Linked DNA regions of Homo sapiens: region 1 is linked to region 2. The links come from fine-mapping of genetic effects on gene expression. Tissue or cell type: whole blood. Region 2 holds a variant in brackets; the other region holds the start of a gene. All regions are shown on one strand. Distances are from middle to middle.

Region 1 (9,905 bases), 180 kb before region 2:
TTATTATTCTCAGTTTACATATGGGGAAACTGAGGCTCAGGTAAGTTAATGAATTTGCTTAAAAAAATGCCGCAACCTATACTGGTTCCATCTTGAATGCAGCCTTTTCCAAGCCTTCTACTTTCTTCAAGACACAATACAGTGCAGAATAGATCCTGGAGAAGACTGGGTTGGAATTCTCCCTCCCGTACAGTCCTAATTGTTTGATTTGTGTAAAGCATTCAATTTTTCTGTCTCTTAAGTTTTCTTATAAAGGAGATAACATCTCTCCAAGGAACTGCTGAGATACTTAAATGAGCTCTTGTAATTAAAATGCCTGGAACAGCAATTGGCACACAGTGCTCAATGGGTATTAGCCATCATGTTGTAAGAAAAAGTAGAAGGAGGAAAAGGAGGGAGAGAGGAGAGAGTGAGGAGGAGGAGGAGAGGAGGAAGATTTTCACTCTCTCAAATTGTCTCCTCGACAAGTAAAGCAACAAGAGATCACAATAGTAAATACATAGATAGGCACAGACACATCTTTACCTGCTTTTTTACTAAAAATCTGGGAAAAATGTGCAGGAGCTCGTCATTGTGGAATCATTTCAGCCTAGATGAAAATTACTGGGAATATATGTTCCAATGGTCTTGAGATTAAACATATTTTCTTACCTTTTTTTTTTTTTTTTTTGGAGGGGAGGGGATGGAGTTTCAGTCTCATTGTCCAGGCTGGAGTCTGGAGTGCAATGGTGCAATCTCGGCTCACTGCAACCTCCACCTCCCAGGTTCAAGCGATTCTCCTGCCTCAGCCTCCTGAGTAGCTGGGATTACAGGCATGCACCACCATGTCCAGCTAATTTTTTTGTATTTTTAGTAGAGATGGGGTTTCGCCATGTTGGCCAGGCTGGTCTCGAACTCCAGACCTCAGGTTATCTGCCCGCCTCTGCCTCCCAAAGTGCTGAGATTACAGGCCTGAGCCACTGTGCCTGGCCCATACCTTAATCCTTGTAAAGCCAATTTCCCTGTGTACTTTGCTCTCTGAATACCTCACTGTGAAGGTTGCAAAATAAAAAATTTATACCCTAAGAATATAGCCTAAATGTATTCAATGTATTCACTATTTACTACTTAACCTCTTTAAGTTTCAATTAAACCTATATTTATAAAATTGAAAAAAGAATTTTAACTCACACACGTTGTGTATACACAGCATATATGTTAGGTATTTGACTAGAGTCTGGTGACTATCGATCAATTAATAAAAGATAGCTTTTGCCGTATTTCCTCAGACATTTTTATTTTCCTCCATATATTAAGATTCATTAAACCAGAATACATCTTATAACTAATGTATACATTCAATAAGTGAGCATTGTTCTTCTTTATTTCCCAGGGCTATTATGAAGTCATTGTTGTACCTTGTAGCATTTACCTTTATTTCCCCTCAGAAAACATAAATCCAGAGATTGCATTGTATTTGCTAAACACTGTATTTTCAAAATGCCAAACAGTGATTAATAATTTTTAAAGAATAAATGACTGAATAATAATCAAAGAACTAAGATATTTTTGCGAAGAGGGAGAGAGACAATTTCTCAATTAGTTTATAAAATCTACCAAGCGAAGTAACTTGAGGACAAAGCAATGATTGAACCTCCCACACATAAGATAACTGATCTAATAATTTTTATTTATAACCCACCTTGTTTAGAGAAGGACCGAAGATGGCTTACAATGATAAAAATAGAGCCAGGCATGGTGGCTCACGCCTGTAATCTCAGCACTTCTGGAGGCCAACGCAGGCGAATCACTTGAGGCCATGAGTTTCAGACCACCCTGGCCAACATGGTGAAACCCTGCCTCTACTAAAAACACGAAAATTAGCTAGGCGTGGTGGTGCATGCCTGTAATCCCAGCTACTCAGGAGGCTGAGGCGGGAGAATGGCTTGAACCCAGGAGGCGGAGGCTGCAGTGAGCTGAGATCGCGCCACTGCTCTCCACGCTCCAGCCTGGGCGATACAGCGGGGCTCAGTCGAAAACAAAAACAAAAACAAAAAAGAGAGAGATAAAAAAAAAGAGAGAAGTATGTGAGAATTTGGAGAGGGAAAAGGGAAAAAGAACAAAAGAAACACACACACACAGAGAATGAAGCCAGAAAAGAGCCACATAAATAAAATTCCTCCTATAAATGCTATAGGAATCCAGAGAAAAAGTTCCCGTGGTTTGGAAAATGTCAATAAAACTTTCCTGGTGGAAATGAGGTCGGCTATGAGGTATTAAGTTCAAAAGGAACTGGATATTTGGTGTCTCTAGTAAGACAGAGCTGCTTCAGAGTCTCCCCAGGGAAAGACGGTGCTTTGGGCAGGTAGTTAGTGTGGGTGAAGGTGATGACTGAAGAATCCTAAGGGCCCAGGCTTGTGGGAAGCCTCTCTCTTTCCGCACTTCACCAATTATCTCATTTTCATAAGGTCTGCGCTTTCCTTAATTGCTTCACTTCCATCAACAGGAACAGGGGAAAGATAAATACATTTCACCTTTTAATGAAGAGAATTTCAGGTAGTCTGTGGGAGATGTTTATAAAAAAAAAAAAAAAAGCTGGTAGGGGGCAGTGTCTCACGCCTGTAATCCCAGCACTTTGGGAGGCCGAGGCAGGTGGATCACTTGAGGTCAGGAGTTTGAGACCAGCCTGGGCAACAAGGCGAAACTCCGTCTATACCAAAAATACAAAAAAAATTACCTTGGCTGATGGTGCGCGCCTGTAATCCCAGCTACCTGGGAGGCTGACGTGGGAGGATAGCTTGGACCCAGAGGCGGAGGCGCAATGAGCTGAGATTGCCTCACTACACTCCAGCCTGGGTGACAAAGTGAGACCCTGTCTAAAAAAAAAAAAAAAAAGTAGTTGGTCTGTGAACTCACTTGCAAATAACTGGATTTTACGGACGCTTAGATATTTGGAGGTCCACAAGGGTTCTTTGGGATCCCCTATTTTCCTTCGCTGCCTCCTTTGTCAGAGTCCAACTCAAAGGGGAAATGCCCCTCTGGGATCTAACCGCCACAGGTGCAAGAAGGAGCAAATTTACATAGAAGCAGCCTGGGGAAAATAGTGCCCTAGATGAGTCTTCAGTTTGGGAAACGCTGAGCTAACACTTTAAGTACTTGGAAGAGTAATACTAATAATCAGTCGTGGCGAGGTTCCGCCCATTTGACATTCAACCCCCCATGAGTGCGCACAGACAAACCCACTGGCCAGGAGGAGCCAACACAAGGTCCTGGGCATCTCCGTCCCGGGAAGGTGGGTAATGCCCCTGTCGCTCTGGGCTCCAGGGCGCGCCCCCGCAGCTTCCCCAGCGGGGTCTGACGCCTCCGGGCCGAGGTGCGCCAGGTGGCGAGGGTGCCAGGCGCGGCCAAGTCGCGGCGGTCTGAGTCAGTCACCCAACTATGCTGCGGAACCAGGGAGGCCGGCTGGGCCGCCCCCGCCGTTGAGCTCCGGCTTCCCCCGCGCGGGGCGCCTGCTCCCCGCCCCCGCGGGCGGAGAGGAAGCGGCGGCCGAGGCGAGGCGCGGGAGCACCTGAGCAAGGCGCGGGCGCCGGGCTCGGCGTTTCCGGAGCTGAGCGCGGGTCCGCGGCCCGCGCTCCCCGCCTCCAGGTGCGGCGGCCGCGACACGCCGGCCCCACTAACAGCGCCGCCCGCGCGGCCGCCGCCAGGCAGCAGAGGCGACTGCGGACAGCCGGCGGGGACCGGGAAAGAGGAGGCCTGGCGCCTCCGGCAGAGGGGCGAGGACCGAGCGCCCAAGGCTGGGAGAGACGCCGGCGCTGAGCTTCCCAGCGCCGCCTCACCTCGCTTTTCGAACTCCGCGACCCGAGCGCAAGGCGAGTACCCGGGGCCTCGGGAAGGCTGGGCCGGGATGGCCCACGCGGGGGTGGGAGGACCCTGTCTGGAGGGGCTGGGGCTTTTCGACACTTCACCGGGTAAATTTCCTCAGCGCAAAGTGCTCGGCTCTGGTGTCCGCCCCTTGGATTTCGCTCCCGCGTGTGGGCGTCTGAAAGGAAACCAGAAGCCGGTAAGTGATCCAAGAACTCCACTTCTGGGATTTGACCCGGGAGGGTGAGGATCCGGATAGACAGCTGGACACTCCCTCCATTCCTCTCCCCTACCTTTAAATAAGAAGAAGCTGTAGTGAGTTTCAGGCACCAAGTTATTTACTCGGTAGAGATCATGAATTTGCCCGGGTGTCTGTGCTGCCCCGCACCCTGCTTGTTAACCACGTTAAGACGACTGGCCTGTTAATTAACTTTAATTACGATCATTTGGCTTCCACCTGCCTGAACCCGATACCTTACACGGGAACCTGTATGATGTGAGTTTACCAGATTGATCTTTCTTGTTTACTTTTGGAGACAGTTCTCTTGGGAGAAGTGGTGTCCATCCTATTTAATAAAGTAAGTTTTACTTTATCTAATTCTGGCTTGTTTTCTTAAACACCTCCTACCTTGAGGTGATCTGGAGTTATTTTGATTTGGGGAAAGGGTTCGTGGATTATATAGCCTTTGATAATTAGAGGAAAACACAAGAAAATAAGCTAATTTGTGTGGAATAATGACATCTTAGGGTGTTGTAAGTAGGTATCCTGATAGCAAATTCTTTTTTTTTTTTTTTTTTTTTTTGCAAGCTTGTCCTTGAAGTAGGCTGTTCAGTAGAATACAGCCTTCGGTTTAAAAAAAATCAAGAAGTGTATTGAAAATAAGCTATTTTTAAAAGTACATTTAATAGGATGTCATTGTTATTACTCATAATAGTATTGTACTTACAAGCTCAGTATTGATTTATCTGCACTTAAGCACTCTACACCCCCACAGGCCCATGGAACTTTGCCCGTAAGTAATTGGAAGATAAAAAGCAAGCTAACTTTTTTTAAGGAAAAAAAGAGAAATACCTTTAAACTCTTTTTTTTTTAACTCTTATTTATGACTTCCATACACTTACAGGAGAAATATTGAGAGAAAATACTCATGACATTTTTTGTCCAACAACGTTTAAAGAAGAAAAAAAAGTGGGTCATGGAACTAGGCTAGGGTTAAGTGCAAATATCTTCCTGGCTTCTTTCTAAACATATTTAACACATACACATTTAAGGTGGTTCCTAACACGAAGAGGGTTTTATATAGATTTGTCAGTACTCAAAGATTTATTTGAATTAAAATGTACCTAGAGGGTAAGTGAGAGAGCTTGTTAAAACGTATTTATATGGGTGTGTGCTTGTGTTTGTATTTTTTCCTTCGTCTGTAAACCTGTCAGATTTTATGTGGCTTGTCTGTAAAAGGAGAAGCTGATGGTACGTTTAAAAACAAATTCTTGTTTTTCTAATATCACTGCAAGCTCCTTGCAGTGTAAGGCTCATGGATATGCAATAATATCAGATCCAACTATTCTTGGATACTGTGGAGAAGTATAGAACTCAGATTATAATGAATTACAGTTTTCTTAAGAACTTTAACGCATTGAAACTATGAAGTTTTAAAGTCTACGTAGAATTCTGGGTTATAGACTTCATGATATATGAGAAGTTTTTTGTTGTTGTTGTTGTTTCGTTTTGTTACTTTCTAACCCACCTCCCTGCAACTGTGAGAAAGTTTGGTGAAAGTGACTATAAAAATGCTAAGTATAAATAATAGTCATTGCTTTAATAGTTTTCTTTTAGCATACATTTCCACCTGTCCTCATTTATTTATTGATACATTTCTTGGATACAATCTTTGCACATGCTACATTGTAAGAGTTTTGGGAATTCTTGGTGAAATATTAATTAGGTAGAGAACTTCTTAATAATCTGGGAAATATGTCTTAGCTTTGACCACATATGGTGGATGTGAGATTAGAGGCTATGAGACGCTGTCTTAATCTTTTCTGCAAAGTTCTGGACCTTGTAATTTATCATTTTAGTTATTACTTGTAAGTATTGGCCAGATTAAATATATAATGGTAGTTAAACCATTTTGCTCACTTGTTTCTTCTTTAAATGAAGCAGTACTTAATGGTATTCTCCTCACGTGATCTTTTCTAGTTAGAAAGTTGTCCTGTGAAATTTTGTTTCAGTTTCTGTTCAGCACAAGCTTACTTATTTACCCATGCTGCAGAGAAAACAAAGGAGGCCTGATTTGGGTTGAAGCAGTGGTTTAGGTGGCAGATTTGAGATTTTTTAGAGTTCCTGAGAACTCATGAAGGATGATGGGGCCACTTCTCCATGTATTTAAAACAATACTAAAATATAAAACCATGTGGAAATTAGGGTCATAAAATTGGATTTTTCTCACCATTACAATTTAAGTGTTTTTTTTGGAATATATCAAATTCTTTGCAAAAAGTTGTTTTTTTGTGGTGTCTTTGGTATTGTTTATTGGCACTTACTGAGTAATAATGAACTGATTGTTCATATACGTGCCATTTACCTTTTCTTATAGTCATGTCTCATCTACCCTTTTAGATTGTAAACTCTTGGAGGGAAGACTGTATCTTCACTTTCTTTGTAGCCCTTAGCACTGTTGTCAAATGAGACAGTAGAGGCTGTTATCTTGAACACCAAATATCTCCCTCTCTTATCTTGGAGCGAGTAGTGTTGCTTAATATATATTGAATGAATACATGTTAAAAAATGGTCCAGTAAGGTAGGAGACGTTTTCTGAAATGCCCTCTTTTTATAAGAAAAAGAAACTTTGACAATTGCTAAACCAATAGGAATAAACCCTCAAACTCAGTTGGAAAAGAGGTCAGAGTACTATTTATAAATGCAAAGAGAGGAAACACAGTAGGCTATTCTGAAACATCTGGTTGTTTGTCTAAAAATATGACTTACATTCAGAGAAATGGTGGAGTATATACACTTATACAAAAGTTTTAAAATTCTGCTTTTGTAGAAACTCTAGAAGAATAAATTATTCTCTGATATCCCAAGAATTATGGCTTTACCTTAGGGATCTCTCTACATTAGAATTTTTAAAAATTCTCAAATCTTAGTGAATTAACTTAAAATCTGGATGGACAGCTTGAAAGGAAAAGACTTACAGAAGCTAAGGAGATTATCAAGCATTTAACTATTGCGATATTATCCAGAACACCTAAACCTAGGTACCTCCTATGCTACTAATATGTTCTTATACTAAGTAAAGGAATTTGTACTTGTGGCCTTCACTGGATGGAAATTGTTTTTAAGTTTTAGGTTTTTTTATTGTGTTTTTCAGATTGTGCTATAAGTAAAATAATCAAAACATAGCTTAGACAATCCTTACTCCTTGATCAAAGCTATGAAATGATTTTGCCCAGAGCCTACCTATTTTCAGCTAAAATTTCCATTATTCTCCATCCAGAAGACACTAATTAAATGCTTGTTGCTTACCAGGCACTGTTCTAAGATTTTAATGCATATGCGCTCATTTCATCCTCAAAATATCCCCGTGAGGTAGGCACTATTATTTTCCCTGCTTACAAATGACAACAGTGAGGCTCAGGAAAAGAGAGGAATTCTCCCAAGGCCACACAGGTAGCACATGGCAGAGCTGGAATCCCTGGTAAATCACTGTGCTTTGTGTCCCAGGTGTTAAGTCTTCAGGTGAAATTATCATCATTCTTACAACTCTAACTACATGTATACGTTACTACATTAATAAAACTATGTTAACTGCTGTGTTAGGTGCATTGTGGGTTTATTAGAAGAATGATTTACAGTGATAATTTAAAGGAATGTAATACTACTATGCAGACCGAAGAATTCCATTCAAACCAAGTGCAATATAGTGGTATGAATATGATTAAAGGCAATATTGTATACAATGGGTGAATTAATATTAGCCAACGTTTATGGTGCAGTTGTAACTCATGTCAGGTATTCTTATATATCTTAAATTTTTACTTGTTTAATTCTAATAGAAATACTATACGATATAGGGTATATTACCCTCATTTTATAAATGAGAAAAACAAGCTTCAGGGAAGTTAAATAACTTAAGTTACATAGTTAAAAAGTGGGGAAGCCTGGACTGGAATTCGGGCATTGTGCTATCTATACTACTGCCTGGGTGGAACTAATAAGGGATTGAGGAGGGATGGGATAGGCAGGGAAGCCTCACGAATGTGGTGTTACCATACTTGTAAGACTTGAATTGGCTCCCAAAGGAGAGAAAAAAAGTCCAGGTATGTACAGGGAGTTCCATTTGAATAAGAGCTGAGAGACTGGCCCAAATCTTCTAGTCTGTTTTCTGATCTCCTTTTTTACTGGGTAAAAATAACACATACTATAAAATTTACCGTCTTATCATTTTAAAGTGTATAGTTCAGTAACGCTAAGTATATTTACAATGCTGTGAAACAGATCTCCAGACCATTTCCAGTTGGTAGAACTGAAACTCTATGCTTGTTAAACAACTCCTTACCTCTCTTCTCCTCTCTGGTAATCATGGTTCTACTTTCTATGAATTTGACTACGGTAGATACCTTATGTAAGTGGAATCATGTATTTGTCTGTTTTATGACTGTTTTTTCACTTAGCATAATGACCTTCAAGGTTCATCTGTATTGTAGCATGTGACAGTATTTATTCCTTTTTAAGGCTGCTTAGTATTTCATTTTGTGTATATACCACACTTTATTTATCCATTCATCCATTCATCCATTCATAGATATCTGGGTTGCTTCCACTCCTTATCTACTTTTGCACCACATTTGAAGTTAAACCTTTAAGATCATAGTCAGGTATCTTTTTTGTGTTAATACTTTCTCTTCTTTTTTTTTTTGAGACAGCATCTTTCTCTGTCCCTGTAGTGGCGTGATATTGGCTCACTGCAACCTCCGCCCACTGGGTTCAAGCGATTCTCATGTCTCAACCTCCTAAGTAGCTGGGATTACAGGTGTGTGCCACCATGCCCTGCTAATTTTTGTGTTTTTAGTAGAGACGGGATTTCACCATGTTGGCCAGGCTGGTCTCAAACTCCTGACCTCAGGTGATCCACCCACCTTGGCCTCCCAAAGTGTATGGGGATTACAGGCGTGAGCCACCATGCCTGGCCTTAACACTTTATTTTCTCGTCAAGCACATTTGTTTTTGTTTTTGTTTTTGTTTTTTACCATAACCATTGACTTCATGTGGGCAGTGAATACTTATTTTGGTCATATTTGATTATTTGATTTTGGCTTCATATTGTTGCATTATATCAATTGTACTATAGTCCTGTGTTAGCTGTCTTTCTGCAGTGATAGATGCAAAATAAATTTTAATAGACTAAATTCTACATTACCATTGCTTTATATAGCAATTACAAAGATGTTCTCCCTTAATTTGTCATTGGCTCTCAACTCTCAGGCAATTAAATGTAAATGAATGTAGGCTTCCAGGTTTAGCCACGTACATGGACACATATCAAACTTAAATGGTGTATAAAACTTGAATTTGCAAGATATGGTATATTTAAACAGCATTTCCCTAGTGTGAATATAAGCCCTTATGAACAGCTAGACAAAGGAGAGGGAGACTATTAAGTCTTTGCTACCTCTTTACTATTAAATCAATTTTATATCTACTATGAGGCTTTACAGTTTATAGCACAGGTTGTGGAGTCTGACTCTTAGAAACACTTAAGTTAGTGTTTCCACTGTTTATCTATTGCGTGACATTCAGCGTCGGATTTTCCTCCTCTGCAGCTGTGAGGAGTAAATGAGGTCCTACAAAAATGGTTTGCAAACATCCACAACTACTGGTTATTATTATTATCAATGTCATTCTGAGGGAGAATGAAAGAAGATGGATGTGTTTTGGTGGGTGGGAAAGAAGTAGTGGTTGAGGTAGAGAACAGGGTACAGAGGAGGTCAGAGCCTGTGAGTGACCACAATTTAAAGAGATGACCACATTGAGGGAACTGGGCTTCCTGTAAGGGGTTTAA
Region 2 (8,000 bases):
TGCAAACCATATCAGTAGTGTACTTGAAATTTCAGCATTATGTATGTTATTACTTGGCCCTTAAATTCTGTGTCTAAGAGAGTCCCAAAGTTTTTATGCTGATGGTTGAAAGACGATGAGAACTGTCACTCTGATATATAAAACCTCTCTATATTTATCCTTAATTTTTCCCAAGTAATAGATGCCGAGTGAAACTTTTTAACAAGATTAAAGTTTGTTTATAAACCCTGTCTTGTTTTTTTTTTACTTCATTTGCGATAAAATACATATATCATGGAATTTTCTACTTTATTTAAAAATACATACAATTCAGTGGCATTGGTTGTATTTACATTGTTCAACCATCACTATTTTTCTTAGTATTTTAACATATTCTAATGAAACTTTGGAATTAAGCTAGATATTAAACATTTCTTCCTATAAATTTCAGAGTAGGAAAAATGTATATAGCTTAAGATGTATAATCAGAATCTTACCAGAAAATTCCAAATTTCAAAATTATTTGTACATTATATTCATGAAAATATTTTTATTCCACTTGAATTTTCTGTTATAAATTTATGTTTGGATCTACTGAGATTAAGAAAAATAGAACAGTGTTGTATACTGGAAACTGTTTAAACTTTTCTTCATTTACTCATTCAAAAATATTTATTGATCATTTCCTATGTGTGTACAAGGCTCACACTTCAGTGAACTAATTAAACAAAAGGAAAAAAAAAATAGAAACCTTGCTAGACATATCTAAGCAGGAGTGAGTTAGAAGAGGCAAGTATGAAGTGAGATTCAATTTGAATAACTAACCCAAAAGACACCTTCGAAGTGGTATGTTGAATGCATGTTAAAATGAATTTCCATGGATTGCATTTTACAGATGTTCCTCAACTTATGATGGGGTTACATACCAATAAACTCACCATAAGGTGAACATACATAAAATAAAAAAGGCGTTAAATACACCTAACCTATGGAATGTTGTAGCTTAGCCTAGCCTAGCTTAAACGTGCTCAGAACATTTATATTAGCCTACAGCGGGGCAGAATCATCTGGCAACACAGCACGCCATATCAGTTTTTCACCCTCATGAGTGCATGGCTGACTGGAAGCTGCAGCTCATTGCCACTGCCCATCATCACGAGAGAGTGTCCTACCGCGCATCACTAACCGGGGAAAAGATCGAAATTCAGAATTTGAAGTATGCTTTCTACTTCATGCATATTTGTTTTTCACCACTGTAAAGTCAAAAAATCGTATTGAGGCATTGTAAGCCAGGGACTGTCTGTAGTTGATTTTGTAGCTCTAAGATTAGTATATAAATTCAGACATGCCACTTGTATCGAAGTAAAGTTAGGACCTAAGTCATAGAAATGAGATCTTTTATAGGAAGCATCAACTTTTATGTGGATTGCACTTTCTAAACCTAAATTGTGCCAAATCTTGCTTCCCTGTGAGACATTTAATTTTATTTTTAGAGTGCAAGAGCAGAACTTGAAAGGCTGCGGCTCAGTGAAAAGTGTGATAAAGAGTCCGTGGACTCTAGCTTAAAGGAGAGAGCTTCCATGGTGGCCCACTGCCTGGAGCACAAGGACGATAAACTTCGAAATCGACCCCGAAAACATCGGAGTTTCAACTGCCTGGAGGACACAGAGCCTGAAGCCCCACTTGGGCAACCAAAAGGCCATAAAGGCCTAAAGACATTGAGGAAGACTGAGGACAGGAATAGCAAAGCTACTTTGGACTCTGATCATAAGTTACCATCAAGGGTAATTGAAGAACTTAATGTGGTTCTACAACGGTCAAGAACCCTTCCAAAAGAATTACAGGATGAGCAGATTTTGAAGTAGGAAATAAAATGAATTGCTCCCCAGATTATTTTTTTAATATTGTATGCAATCTTTATGTGTAACTCCAAAACTGAACTATAAGATAATTCATAAGAATTTGCCTATTGATAGGCAAATTTGTCTATGCTTAGGCATTTAAGGAGCATTTAAAAATATGTATATATGTGACTGAATGTAAGATTAACTTTATTTTGGTCTGAACAAACCTTGTAAAGTTCCATTGTATTAACGTGTGTAAGAAGACATTGGGTTACTTAGGTGGTCAGTCCTTTTAAAGTAGTTGTCTGTTAAGTGGTATAATTTATGAGCAGAAATCTCAAACTGTACTGTATTGTATAAAATGCTGTGTTTAAATGAAGCCTAAGAAACTATCTGTAACATATTTTGCACTTTGAGAAACCTTGTATATTAAATTACCATATGTTTTTAGGTTTACAGAAGTTCTACCTTAGGGAAAAGAAAGGGAAGTAAATTGAAAAAGGGGGGAGAATTTATTGTAGTGGCTGCCTAAAAACCACTGGAGTTTTTAAAAGAAGCAAGGAGTTAAATGTCCTGCAAAACAAGGAAGTGAGCTAAGATTCATTCTAGTTCACTAATGACCAGAACTTGTCAATGAGAAACCACTTGTTAAGAAAAAGTCCAGTGTTTATTTCTCAAGAGTAATATTCGGCCAACAGATGTAAATAATAGCACTAGCCACTCTTATTAATATTTATAGTGTTAGAAAACCAGCCACATTACAGATTCACTACGTTTGAGCTCATTGTTGGTGGCTGCTAAGAGGAAACTTACACTGCATTGGAGAGGTTGTGTACACAGGACCTGGCCTGGATGCTGATTGCACTGTCATTGTATGCAAGCATTTTGTCTTTTTTCAGAATTTCTGACTATACTTTTGGTACGAACAAAATTCATCACCACAGGGTCCTGTTGTTTTGTTTGATTTTTAGATTTTTTTAAATTATTATTAAGGTTGTAATGTTTTTCTCCGAGTTGTCAGAAATAACTGGAAGAATACAATATATGGCCATTATGGAGCCAGGGGCTAGTTGGTGGTTTACTATACATTTGGGGGCTACCTGGTCACATTTAATCTAGGTTTTTTTTTCTTTTTTTAAGTAAAGGTGTGGTCTCTTCCCTGTACTTATGAATAAGGACAAAGCCCTATTTTTGTTTCCACATAAAGATCAGCTACTGAATTGGTGAATTTCCTGACAGACAATGCTATCTAACCATAGTTCA[T/C]GTTAGGGGAAGCATTTTTCCATCAGTTTCTTTAAAATTGGATTGTCTGGTGAGTTTTGATATTAAACATTATGTAGCTAAGTTTTTTTTTTTTAGCATTTCTTTTTTATTTTTCAATCTATATTCACAGGCCCATACTTCAGTCAGTCCAATCATAGTACAGTGATGTGGTGGTAGATGCTATGAATTTCTTCATTGTAAAATACGGATCATTTGTATTTTGGGGTGATAAAATAGTTCACCATGGGTATGAGATATTTATTCTTTAAATCAAAGTAAATTAGAATTTTTAAAAAGCACAAAACTGCAGGACAGTTTATGAAATAGGTGGCACTATTAGGGAATCTTCCTTTAAAGCAAGAAATCATGTTATTTAGAAAGAAAAACTAATCTTAAACATACTATTTCTAATAAATATTTATATTTTTATGAAATAAAGAGGTATGTGGAAATTAATATTTGGTGATGTTGGACAGTGGAAAAGTATCTAGAGTTTTTACCTGCCTTATCTGAATTCTTCTTGAAACTTGAGCTTAAACTCTAATAGCTGTTTCCCTTTCTATTCTGAACAACTGTCTCCATTTTTCAAGTGTGAGAGATAAGGGCTAATGATGACATCTCATTTATTTTGAGTAAACATTAAAATTGTTTTACAAGTCTACTTGAATGTGACTTTATTATTTTCAGAAGTTGAAGGTTGTTATTGTGAAATAGATCAAATAGATTAGCTTTCTTTTCTTTTTAAAAAAATTTGAATTTAATATATACTTCAAACTGGCTGTATTGTTTTTCCAAACAGGTCACTGTAAGTAGCTTTATTTATTTAAAGACCCACTTGCTGAGAACCAGGCACAATTACAGGCTCTGTGGCCTGTATTGACGAGAAGCTGCTGACCAGCCACATCCCTACAAGATGCATAGTACCACCCCTGGTTTATAGGCATCTCTGCCAGCCTTGCCACACCATGAGAAGGCCAAGGGACTGGCACAAGTGTCTGGCACCTCAGCAGTGCCACTTGGTCATTCATGAGCAGTCCCTCATGTTCAGGAACAGTGCCTGTCACCCAGGCCACTTCAGCTGCATCCACTGTAGGAAGGAGCTGACTGGTGAGGCCCATGAGCTGAAGGGTGAACTCTACTGCCTGCCCTGCATTGACAAGATGCTGTCCCCATTTCTAGGGACTGCAGCCAGCCCATCAAAGGCCACATAGTGAATACACTGGGCAAAGAGTGGTGGCATGCAGAGCTCTTTTCCCTGAGTGTGAGAAGCCATTCCTGGGGCCCTGGCACTATGAGAAGAAGGGCCTGGCCTACTTTGAGATCCACTACAGCCAGCTCTTTGGGACATCTGCTGTAGCTGCAGCCATGAGGTCAAGGGTGACATGGTGTTGGCCCTCAACAAGGCCTGATGTGTGTGAACTGCTTCTCCCGCTCCACCTGCAAGAGCAGGCTCACTCTGAAGATCAAGTTTGTGGAGTTTGACATGAAGCCCGTGTGTAAGAACTTCCCACTGGAACTGAAGAAGAGGCTGAAGAAGTCATTGGAGCTCACGTCTCGCTAGGCCTAGCCCAAGTCTGGGGACCTCAACTCTGAAGGCTCTCTTGCCTGGCCCTTCTCTCCCTCCCTTCCTTCTCCCAGAGGACCTCTGCCTTCTCCCTCTCCAGCTCACTGCCTTCTCACAGCCACCTCCCACTTCTATTGTCTGTTCTTGGACTCCTCATCTCCCTTTACCTGCTTCTTGTCCTCCCCTTGTCTCCTTTCTCATCATCTCCACCCTTTCTATTCTCTTATCTCTGCCTTCCCCAATGTCTTTTCTCTCCTTTATGGTGGCTTCTCTCTTTCCTTCTGTGCAGAGGCAGTGACCCAAGAGGTGGGGAGCCTGTGAAAGGCCTGGGCCCATGCCCTGTGACTGCATCTACCTGGGTCCATGGACTTCAGCCTGCAGAACTCCAGGGATAGCAAATCAGGGTCTGGGGTCACCAGAGCTCCTATCCTGACCTGTCCCTCCCCACAGGGAACCAGGTTGCACATATTCCTGTGGGACCCTCCACCTCAGAGTACACCCACAGCCAGAGCAGCCCACCTGAGCTGCAGGACCAGGGCCACCCTTCAATCTCTCACCATTCATTTAACCAAGTAGTATCCCTGTGCCCAAACTGGGCCAGCAAGTCCTGCCACCCCATTCACTACCTGCAGGGACAGGAGCCCACTTCCATCAAGAGGACTTTCTGAAATCCAACCTTGGCCCCTGCCTCTGGCTAGGCCACTTGGTTCTCCCCTCCCCCAGCCCAGAACCTGTGTTGAGACTTTGGGTGTGGCTGGGAATAGGAGGTGGTAGGGTCAGAGGTGGCTTATTTCCACCTCTAAGGAGGAGAATTCCTCCACAACCAGTGCAGACCTGAGGTTGGGACTCAGGCTTGCATAATGAAGGCTTAGTCACAGGAAAAAAAAAAAAAAAGAAAGAAAAAAACAAAAAAGCAAAGCACTCAAAGTGCTCAAAGGCACTCTCAATTTTATTTCTGTAGCCCTAAAATTAATTATTAGACATGGTTTTTAAATATTTGATTTCTAAAGAAATCATTACCTGATGATTCATCAAAGTGTCACTGAGAACTCAAAATCAAACAAAAATAATTGAAGCAAAAATATGACTTATGAACGTAACTATATTAGCTGCTGAATTGCATAATTTTTAATTCAAAAATATAATGCAAAAGCAATTTTGTAAATGCATTAAATGTATTTGAACAGGTTGTAGCATGCAGATATTTGCATCTTTTTAAAGTTTTAATAATCACTTTAGGAAGAAGATTAAAACTTTCACCATCTTAACAAAATTTGCATGAAGACTTACATATTCTTCCTTACTCAAATGAACTTGTAACCAACCCCAAACTCATTTTGCTTGCCTCACAACAGCCAGTAAGTTAAGGAGGTGGAACAAGGAACAAGGAAGGCAACTTTATTTTGGAAAGCCAGCAAACCAAGAAGATGGCCAACTAGTGACCTAAAGTACCATTTTAAGTCGGTACAAATTTCAAGCTGTTTTTATGTTTAGGGTAGCAGGAAGAGGAAAGGGTTGGGATCAAGATGTGCGCCACAACCGCAGAAATTTGGATACTAGTCAGAGTTTGAGGCAGCTGGAGCTGCTTCGTCCATGGTCAGGTCACAATGCTTCTGCAAATCTCTTTTTTTTTTTTTTCTTTTTTTAAATTTTAAGTTCTAGGGTACATGTGCACAACGTGCAAGTTTGTTACATAGGTATACGTGTGTCATGTTGGTTTGCTGCACCCATTAACTTGTCATTTACATTAGGTATTTCTCCTAATGCTATCCCTCCCCCAACCCCCCACCTCCTGACAGGCCCCAGTGTGTGATGTTCCCAGCCCTGTGTTCAAGTGTTCTCATTGTTCAATTCCCACCTGTGAGTGAGAACATGCGGTGTTTGCTTCTGCAAATCTTTAACAAAACATAGCTGTTTACATACTTTTCCTTTAATCACAGAGTTAGTTAAGAAAACTACATGACTGTTTTCTTTGAATTTTTTCTCAGTGCTCTAAAATTAGCCTGTGAGCAGGAATAGGTAAAGACCCCTTTAACAAAAAATGGAGTTAGTTATGTTAGTTTTTCTACTGTTTCACTGTTACCAATTAGTTAAGGCAGAATTAGTTGTAAAATGTGACCATTTTTCTGTCATGTGTACAATCATCACATTTAATTTCTAATGATCAGGAAATGCAAAGCACAGAAATGAATCAGGTAATTAAAGTTTATGTTTTTAAGTTGTATAATTATTTTAACATTTTTTATTTAAAATATTACAAATTACATTGTATTACCCCTTTTCTGCCACAGCCACTATATGTTGAATATAAAAGTTTTGATAATTGAGATACCTCTGCAGATTTAACCCTTTTTATGAGTTAAAGTTCAGAGCCCAAATGTCCTCATCTGAGAAGTAGGAATGTTAACTTGTTGACTTTTTTCAACAACTGTTTTATACACACACACACACACACACACACACACACTCTCACACAAATTACGAGCCAGGTATATGAAATAGATACATATATAGCAGCATAGTAGAGATACAATAAATGTTAGTTATTAATGTATTAGTCCTCCTAGCTCTCATTTGATCTTAGTTGACCCTAATGGTTTTCAAAACCGCTTCTAGCAGGCAGATCAAGACGGTGTAATAGAAGGCTCTTCCAACTGTCCTTCACTAAAGGACACCAACCTAATAACTATCTACACAGAAAACAAACTTCATATGAACCAAAACTCAGATGAGCACTCACAGTACCTGGTTTTAACTTCTTATCACTGAAGGAGGCACTGAAGGGGTAGAAAATACGGTCTTGAATCAACACCATTCCTCCCCAACCCCCTAGCAGCAGCAACATGGTGCATTGAGGAAACTTTTTAGGACAACGGGCTGGGCAAAAATTTCTTGAGTAATATCCCCATAAGCACAGGCAACCAAAGCAAAAATGGACAAATGGGATCACATCAGGTTAAAAACTTCTGCATAGCAAAGAGAACAACCAGCAAAGTGAAGAGACAATCCACAGAATGGCAAAAAATATTTGCAAACTATCCAACTGTCAAGGGATTAATAACCAGAATAAATAACAAGCTCAACAATTGTACAGGAAAAAATCTAATAATTTGATTAAAAGTTGGCAAAGATTTGAATATACCCTTCTTAAAAGAAGACATACAAATGGGAAACAGGAAGATGAAAAGATGCTCAACATAAGTTGGCAGAAAAATGCAAATCAAAACTACAATCAGAAATCATCTCACCTAAGTTAAAATTGTTTATACCCCCAAAACAGTCAATCATAAATGCTGGTGAGATTGTGGCGAAAAGGGAAACTTCTTGGTGGGAATGTAAGTACAATTACT

What was found. PIP is the estimated chance that this variant, and not a neighbour inherited with it, causes the effect.
Region 1: ARAP2 starts here. The variant in region 2 is fine-mapped to the expression of ARAP2 in whole blood (TOPMed, PIP 0.95).

What each region holds. Positions count from the first base shown.
Region 1 is chr4:36,238,122-36,248,026 of GRCh38, reverse strand. ARAP2 (ArfGAP with RhoGAP domain, ankyrin repeat and PH domain 2) reads left to right here and starts at 3,513. Exons shown (of 33, transcript NM_015230.4): 1 at 3,513-3,848. LOC439933 (a long non-coding RNA gene) reads right to left here and starts at 3,911. Exons shown (of 5, transcript NR_122079.1): 1 at 3,816-3,911; 2 at 2,717-2,855. RefSeq lists a silencer at 3,138-3,717.
Region 2 is chr4:36,061,751-36,069,750 of GRCh38, reverse strand. It overlaps ARAP2 (ArfGAP with RhoGAP domain, ankyrin repeat and PH domain 2), which reads left to right. Exons shown (of 33, transcript NM_015230.4): 33 at 1,473-3,747. The coding sequence ends at 1,844. It also overlaps the pseudogene LOC651644. Among named protein-coding and RNA genes, the nearest start is that of ARAP2, 180 kb to the left of the region's middle. The variant T/C (reference allele first, on the strand shown) is at 3,087.